3 separate regions of the Homo sapiens genome follow, and all the other regions are linked to region 3. Evidence: fine-mapped expression QTL. A gene starts in region 3. Each other region holds a variant in brackets. All regions are shown on one strand. Distances are between the middles of the regions. Region 1 has its middle 16 kb from the start of OR52B6. Region 2 overlaps TRIM6-TRIM34 (TRIM6-TRIM34 readthrough). Region 3 holds the start of TRIM6 (tripartite motif containing 6).

The links. PIP is the estimated chance that this variant, and not a neighbour inherited with it, causes the effect.
Region 1: its variant is fine-mapped to the expression of TRIM6 in whole blood (TOPMed, PIP above 0.99).
Region 2: its variant is fine-mapped to the expression of TRIM6 in whole blood (INTERVAL, PIP above 0.99).

What each region holds. Positions count from the first base shown.
Region 1 is chr11:5,563,488-5,566,253 of GRCh38, reverse strand. No RefSeq gene overlaps it. Among named protein-coding and RNA genes, the nearest start is that of OR52B6, 16 kb to the left of the region's middle. The variant A/G (reference allele first, on the strand shown) is at 1,403.
Region 2 is chr11:5,621,181-5,623,946 of GRCh38, reverse strand. All of the region lies in intron 7 of TRIM6-TRIM34 (TRIM6-TRIM34 readthrough), which reads right to left. It also overlaps a transcript of TRIM5 not described here and a transcript of TRIM34 not described here. Among named protein-coding and RNA genes, the nearest start is that of TRIM34, 2.4 kb to the left of the region's middle. RefSeq lists an enhancer at 1,906-2,514. The variant G/A (reference allele first, on the strand shown) is at 1,075.
Region 3 is chr11:5,595,142-5,597,907 of GRCh38, reverse strand. It overlaps TRIM6 (tripartite motif containing 6), which reads right to left and starts at 1,271. Exons shown (of 8, transcript NM_001003818.3): 1 at 994-1,271. The coding sequence starts at 1,010. TRIM6-TRIM34 (TRIM6-TRIM34 readthrough) reads right to left here and starts at 1,271. Exons shown (of 14, transcript NM_001003819.4): 1 at 994-1,271. The coding sequence starts at 1,010. It also overlaps a transcript of TRIM5 not described here. RefSeq lists enhancers at 1,287-1,336, 583-1,500, 1,655-1,949.

The sequences.
Region 1 (2,766 bases), 32 kb after region 3:
AGCTCATAAATTCAGTAAGCATATTTATGCTGAAAATTACCAAGTCTAAAGCTGTACATCAAATTCCTTATATGACCCTATAGCCAACTTCCTATTTGATGTCTACTCTTATATTTCCCACTGAAACTTCAAAATCAACATGTTCAAATAAAAATTACCATTTTCTCTCCTTATTTGCTTCATGATCCACAAATCATCTTGAATTCTCTCTTACTAAACAGTATAAAATTTAACTAGTTTTCCATGTCAAAGTCTATTTTTCTTATTTATTTTAATTATTTAATTATTTAAAAATATGTTTATTATTTATTATGTTTTCTAAATATGCTTTGAATTTATCCACACACTTCACATTAAAATATGATCACTATTGTCTCTCTCTCCCAAGTTTTCCATACCCTAATTTAGGAATTTGCTACCTCCAGTCTTTTTTTCTCTCCCATCCACTTGCTACTCAGAAAATATCATGGTCTTACTAAACTCAAACCTAGATCGACTCACTCTTCTACTTTAAATCATTCAACAGTAGATCTATTTGCTTTGAATACAATCCAAATTTCCTAACGTGTATGTTTTCAAAGCCTTTTATAGTATTTCGATGCCAACCAGTCATTGTCTGGTGTCCACTAGCCCCAACCTCCTTCTTTTCTCTTACTCTTACATGCCCTTATGTTACAATCATACCATATTTCTTTTAGTTTTTCAAACAAAGTATGTTTTCTTTCCACTTGGACCTTTATACATGCTATTCCCTCTGGAAAATGAAGCTTAGCTTGAACTTGGGTAACAAGGAGGAGAAGAGGAAATGATTTTGTAATCTTTTTCCATAAAATACTTTGTCCTACTTCACATCCACTAGGACAGTGATATATATATATATTTCATAGATATGTTTCATATATATATATTTCATATATATATGAAAAGGAAAATAACAAGTGAGGATGAGGAGAAATTAGAACCCTGATACATTGGTAGTGGGAATGTAAAATGGTGCAGCCTCTATGGAAAACAGTTTGGGTGTTCCTCAAAAAGTTAAATGTAGAAATACCATTTGACCTAGCAATTCTACTCCTAGGTATATACCCAAGAGAACTGAAACAGGTGTTCACATAAAAACTTGTAAATGGTTGCTTATAAGACCATTATTCATAGTAGCAAAAATAGAAGTAAAAATAAGTAAAATATATATCAACTGATGAATGTGGTATAATTATACAATAAAATATATTCAGCCACAAAAAGGAATAAAGTTTCAATACATGCTGAAATATGAATGAATCTTGAAAATATGTTAAGTGAAAGGAATCAGACAGAAATGGCTGACATGTTGCATAATTTCATTTACATTAAATGTCTAGAAGAGATACATTTGTAGAGACAGGAAGTACGTTAATGCAGG[A/G]AAAGGAAGTGGAGAGTGACTAGTTAGTGAATATGGGTTTTCTTTTTGGGGTGATAAAAAGGCCTGAAATTAGACTTTGGTGATGGTTACACAACATTAGAAATGTACTAAAAGCTACTAAATTACATACTTTAAAGTGGAGAATTTTATGTCATGTGAATCTTACCTTAATAAAAGTTAAACAATATGCTCATTATCATGCAAGAAATATATGATGATATATAGAAAATAAGTCAATTTCATTCCAAAATTTTTGTTCTTACCTACTCACTATTCTACCTCAGAATGAGTCAGGATTTCTGTAGCCCAGAGACTTCATTATCACATCCTTTTTGAGTTACATCATTCTAATCCCAGTGTGTCAGGTCTAACTAGAGTCACAAGAGTCATGTGCTAGAGGCTGCTCCCACTGGCTCATGAGAGCCACATGTTAACTTTCAGGACTTTTGCAAGCAGGTCAACATCAAATTGGTAGCTTGAAGTCAGCTATAGTGGAAATATCTACATTTTCTCAATCAGCTGCTCTACAATCAAGCCCCAAGAATTGGCTGTTAAGCATTCATCAGCTTACCACTGGCCATAGTCCTCTTGAAGCCCAATTCACAAGCCTGAGTGTGGCTCAGGCCACGACTGCAGGCCTTATAAGGCTGCACTTGAGCTTCAACCGCTTCACTGGCTCTTTTCTTTTGAACTCTGATTTTTATGTCCCCTTGGTTAGTTTTACCCCAACGACCTTTCATATTCCTAAACTTGATCGTATTTTTGAGAGTAGTTTGATAACACATTATTTTATTGTGATTTAGATATAACTTTTTAAGTATATAGCTTTGTATTACTATAGGGAGTGAAGAAGAAAGGAGAGTGGGAAGAAGATTCAGGAATTAGCATAGGGACAATGGTCACTCAAAATATACAGGGTTGAATTATGTGAAAGTTGAAGATCATTTACATTAGAAGTTTGCACTGAATTATATTGTGTTTTGAAGATTCATTTTATCAATTTCATCTTGAAGGAACACACAAATTATTCTGGACAAGATACACTGTTATTATTCAATTATAAAGACAATAATAACTGTGTGGTCCCCCACAGCTGATTCTTGCTCCTGAGACAATGCAATGAAGGCCAGGTCAAATGTCCTATGGCATGCTATATGCGCATCATAAGCAAAGAATGAAGAAATATATATTTTCTTTGCTCACGAAAGCCAGAGAGACTATTCCCTAGACCCACCCCCATACACATACCTCCCTCCTTCCCAGAATGTTTCCTTAGATATTACCAGGGTATAAATTTTCCAGAAAAAAATAAGACCTTTCTCACAAGCTTCACAACCCCGAAATGTCTCCACACTTCTGAAGTT
Region 2 (2,766 bases), 26 kb before region 3:
TACCTCCTGTAGAGCACATTACATAATAAAAGGTGCCACCTTTGGAAACCACCTGACAAGGTACAATTTTCATTTTTGCCCTCTCCATCTGACTCATGCATGGTGATCAAGGACAATTATAAACTTGTTGGAAGTTTAACAACTTTCCCACAAAAATGTATCCACATCCAATACCTTGGGAATATGCTTTGACTACTTTTAAGGGAGTCAATTACTATCAGGTTAGTGCAAAAGTAATTGCGGCTTTTGAAATTAAAAGTATTATAAAGCCAACTGTGGTGGCTCACACCTGTAATCCCAGAACTTTGGGAGGTTGAGGCGGGCGGATCACAAGGTCAGGAGTTCGAGACCACCCTGGCTAACATGGTGAAACCCCCGTCTCTACTAAAATTACAAAAAAAAAAAAAAAAAATTAGCCGGGCATGGTGGCATGCGCCTGTAATCCCAGCTACTCAGGAGGCTGAGGCAGGAGAATTGCTTGAACCCGGGAGGCGGAGGTTGCAGTGAGCCGAGATCGCACCACTGCACTCCAGCCTGGGTGTCAGAGCAAGACTCTGTCTCAAAAAATAAAAAAATAAAAATAAACAAAATAAATAAAAGTATTATAATAGCAAGAACCGCAATTACTTTTGTACCAACCTAATACTTTCAGATTTCTTTTCCTTATTTCAATATTGGTAACTAATACATTTAGATAGTGTAAAAGGGAAGAAAATCTCGGGACCCAAAAATCACTAAGCCAAAGGGAAAAGTCAGGTTGAGAACTGGTTAGGGCAAACCTGGCTCCCATTCTATTCCAAAAAAAGACAGCTACTAAGATAAAAAAAAAAAAAAAAAAAAAGCTCCAGACAGAACTCAAAGTCACCCCTTTGCTCAGGTGAGATAAATGAATATCTGGTTACTTCCTTTGCCCTATTGCTTAATGCAACCTGTTTGTCTTTTATCTACCTATGACCTGGAAACCCCCTTCCGGACTCAGCTGTCCCGCCTTTGCGGACATATATTGATTGATGTCTCACATCTCCCTCAAATGTATAAAACCAAGCTGTGCCCTGACCACCTTGGGTACATGTT[G/A]TCAGGACCTCCTGAGGCTGTCATGGGTGCATCCTTAACCTTGGCAAAATAAACTTCCTAAATTGATTGAGAGTTTTCTCAGATACTCTTTCATTTACAATAGTAAAGCATCAGACAGATTTGTTAAAGCATGTGTTGAGATGTGTATATTACCTTAGCCCATCAGTTCTGTGTGGATGACATTCAATTTTTCATCATTCATTTTGTTCACTTGAGTTTTTTCCGGTTTTTTTTATTTGTTTGTTTGTTTTTTTGAGATGGAGTTTCGTTCTTGTCGCCCAGACTGGAGTGCAATGGCATGATCTTGGCTCACCGCAACCTCCGCCTCCCAGGTTCGATTCTCCTACCTCAGCCTCCTGAGTAGCTGGGATTACAGGCATGCGCCACCACGTCCAGCTAATTTTTCTTTTTTTCTTTTTTTTTTTTTTGAGAGGTAGTCTCGCTCTGTCGCCCAGGCTGGAGTGCAGTGGCGTGATCTCGGCTCACTACAAGCTCCGCCTGCCGGGTTCACGCCATTCTCCTTCCTCAGCCTCCCAAGTAGCCGGGACTACAGGCACCTGCCACAACGCCCGGCTAATTTTTTGTATTTTTAATAGAGGCAGGGTTTCACCATGTTGGCCAGGATGGTCTCAAACTCTTGACCTCATGATCTGCTTGCCTCGGCCTCCCGAAGTCCTGGGATTACAGGTGTGAGCCACCGCGCCCAGCTGAGTTTTTTCCTTTTTAAAAAACTCATTTCTCTGAGTTCAATGGACATGCAACTATGCTATGTCTTTAATGTCTTTTTGTTATTTTCTTAACAACTGTCTAGTCTGAACCCCGAAAATCTGAGACAGATCTCAGATAATATAGAAAGTTTATTTTACCAAGGCTGAAGACATGTGTCCCTGACAGCCTCAGGAGGTCCTGACAACATGTGCCCAAGGTGATCAGAGCACAACTTGGTTGTATACATTTTAGAGAGACATGAGACATCAATCAATAAATGTGAGATGTACATTGGTTCCATCTGAAAAGGCAGGACAACTCAAGCAGGGAGGGGGCTTCCAGGTCACAGGTTGGTGAAGGACAACCTGTTGCATTCTTTTGAGTTTCTGATTAGCCTTTTCAAAGGAGTCAATCAGATAGGCATTTATGTCAGTGAGCAGAGGGATGACTTTGAATAGAATGGGAGGCAGGTTTGCCCTAAGCAGTTCCCAGCTTGACTTTTCTATTTGGCCTAGTGATTTTGAAGCTCCAAGATTTATTTTCCTTTCATACTACCAACATATAATATATTAATGGTAGAAAAATCATCACTTTTGGAAACTCTTAGGCATTCTTCTGGTGCCTCACTCTCAGCTGAGCTGTGCTTCTGGATAGCAGAAATGACCTGGACAGAAAAATGAGCAAGTTTAGTCATTCAAGAATATGCAGCTATTTCCATGGGCATGTACTTAGAGCTCTATGTAAACAGGAGTGGCTAACAAGAGTTGGCAAGGGTCATATCCTCAAGGCTTGTTTACACAGGCAGAGAGAGCCAGCTGGGAAATTATCTAGAGACACCAGTGCAGGAGTAAAGTATCTGTCTTCTCAGATCCCTCTGGCTTTACTCACACCATTCTCCCAGGTCCCAAAGCCCTGAAAATGAAAGTCATAAATATCCCAAAAGAGTTACCTGGAATTTAAGAGAGTGCAGCAGCCTGGAGTGAT
Region 3 (2,766 bases):
TTCTTACGCACATTAAGGCTTCAGAAGCACTGCCTTAGATAAAGGACCTTCTTTCCCAGGTGGATACAATTTAGGGTGCAAAACAGCTAGAAGAGGGAGGGGGACAGAGAATGGCCTGCTATTTAGATACGAAGCATCTTTTAGAATGGAAGCTTGCATCGATATCAAAATGGCTTTCAGAATAAAAATCAGTGACTCAGCAGGGGATACTGGGGCTGGTGTAGGCTGGGGGTTCAGAGTTAGGAATGACAGAGCGGGCCCGTCCACCAGCTGGGAGCCCTAGTGAAAGTGGAATAAAATAGGTGGCAGTTGCATTTATAAGTGAGTTGGGCATGAGTTCTTGCACTTTAGGAATAACATTTTTTTTTATCTTTGTGTAGGGTTATATTTAACCTATTATCTGCAATTGATTATCTAACAGGACTCAATAAATATTTGAATTGGAACATAATCAGTTTCAAAACAAAAAATTTAATTTCCACTTCAAAAGAATTTCTACCCCCTGCATTTCAGAAACCTATAATTTAAAAATTGTTTTGATTGTGCATTTTTTTAAAGCTAGGCATGGAGTTTGCCAGTAATAATGACCATAATTTGTGTCAGGCAGCCTCCTACGTGTTTAAATCTGTCTCACTCAATCCTCACCAAAACTCTAAGATATACATATTACTCCGTCCATCTTATAGATGGAAGAAACTAAAGCTCAAAGAAGTCAAGTTAACAGTCTTCGGGCACACAGCCAGTGTCTGTCAGAGTCAGGATTTGAACACATGCAGTCTGGCTGCGGCATCTATGCTCCTAACCACACATTTCTGTCTCTATTGACTGACTGATTAAAATGTCTCTAACCTCAGTGGGGTCATTTGCAGTGAGAAAGAAAAAGAAATAAAGATATAATGAGTTCCGAAAGGGAAAGGACCTTATCTCTTTCACTGCCCTGTCACCTCTGCCAGAAGTGACAATAAGAGCCAGTCAACAGAACGGTAGACATACCTCTCTGACCCGCACATCTGGGGAATGAGAAGCCAAGAAGTTCCAGATGTAAGCAATATCAGGTGGTCAAAGCTCTTCAGAGCAATCCAAGGCACCTTAAACTAATCTTAAGGAACAGAGCGCGCTCACTCGGCTTTTATCTAAACTCAACCACGCACGACTCTGCTCCGTTCCGTTCCGAGAAAGGCAGGGGATCCCTCCTCCGCCAGCCTTTGGCCGTTGAACGGACGGACCCACAGGTCAGGAGTTTGCGGAAGGCTCATCTCCCAACTCCTTCTGGGAGGAGTCGGGCCGCCTGGGGTGGGGGATAAACGGTGCTCACTTCCTGGAGCGGCCAGGCTGGAGATGGGGGAGGGGAAGGGGGAAGGGGGAAGGGGGAAGGGGGAAGGGGGGAAGGGGAGAACGGGGGAAGGGGGGAAGGGATGCTGACTCTGAATCCACGCCTGACAAAATGGTTTGCAGTGATTCCCTAAAGCAGTTTCCAGAGCTGCCTCCTCTACATACTTCAGCTTGTAGAATAGAGGTTTAACTCTCTTTACACGGCCTATTCCCAGCTGCAAAGGTGCCTCTTCTGTGCTCCCTTCCCAAACTTGAGTTCACTTGAAAATGCAGAAGTCTCCCTCATTCTTCTTTCACCCGTGAACCACCCCCAACCCGACCTGCAGAGCGGGTCAAACTCTCCAGACAAGTGGGGACAGCGGTAGCTGGCCAGAAAATAAACTTGCTCACTAACCTGGAATCTGTGGCCTGGATCAGAGCCAAGGACTTGAAGCAGCCGCGTCCTCCACCCAGGCCGAAAGACTCAGGGGGGAAGGGGCGGGGCCTGGGGAGGAGGAGGGTCAAATTGTCCAGCCCCGCAGGAGATCCAGCCGATTCCATGGGTGTGGTCACCAGTGACCCCTCAGGTGGTAAGGGAGATGGAGATGGTTTCTGAGGCCAGGCGCGGTGGTTCACCCCTGTAATCCCAGCACTTTGGGAGGCCGAGGCGGGCGGATAACGAGGTCAGGAGATTGAGACCATCCCGGCCAACATGATGAAACCCTGTCTCTACTAAAAATACAGAAATTAGCTGGGCGCGCCTGTGGTCCTAGCTACTCGGGAGGCTGAGGCAGGAGAATCGCTTGAACCCGGGAGGTGGAGGTTGCACTCCAGCCTGGAGACAGAGCGAGACTCTCTCTCAAAAAAAAAAAAAAAGAATTTTTGAAGGTAGCAACGCAAAGCTGTTCATCTTACCTGATGAACGGCAAATCCGGAGGCCTTTGAGAACACCAGGCCAGAGATGACCCTTGTAAATTGTCTGCAGTGTACTGTAGCTTTCTAATATCATATCAGAGTTTAATTACACTGATAATACACCTGTACTCCATATAGACGTATTAATTAAAATGTCTAAATAAACATATAAAGTTATACGAGTAAAAGCCCCTTTGCATAATGGCATGTTTTGCCAAACGATCATTAAAATTCATCAGTTTAAAATTACACGTATGTATGTATAAAGCTGTGTGTGTGTATCTGTAATTTTGACCTATATAACTAGAAGACAATCTTTGTTTTTATTTAGGTCTGATGAATACATGTAAAGCTTATTGAGCCTCAGAACTCTAACTACAGGGTTTCAATAGCACAGAAACTCTGAGAAGAAAAAGAATGTCAAAGTTCCTCCCTAAGGAGACTGATTAGGTGAGTATCACCTTGCCTTAGAAGGTGGCTTGGGGAGGGAGGTATAGAGAGAGAAGGGACTGGGGTGTCCATACAAAAGTCTGGACGGAG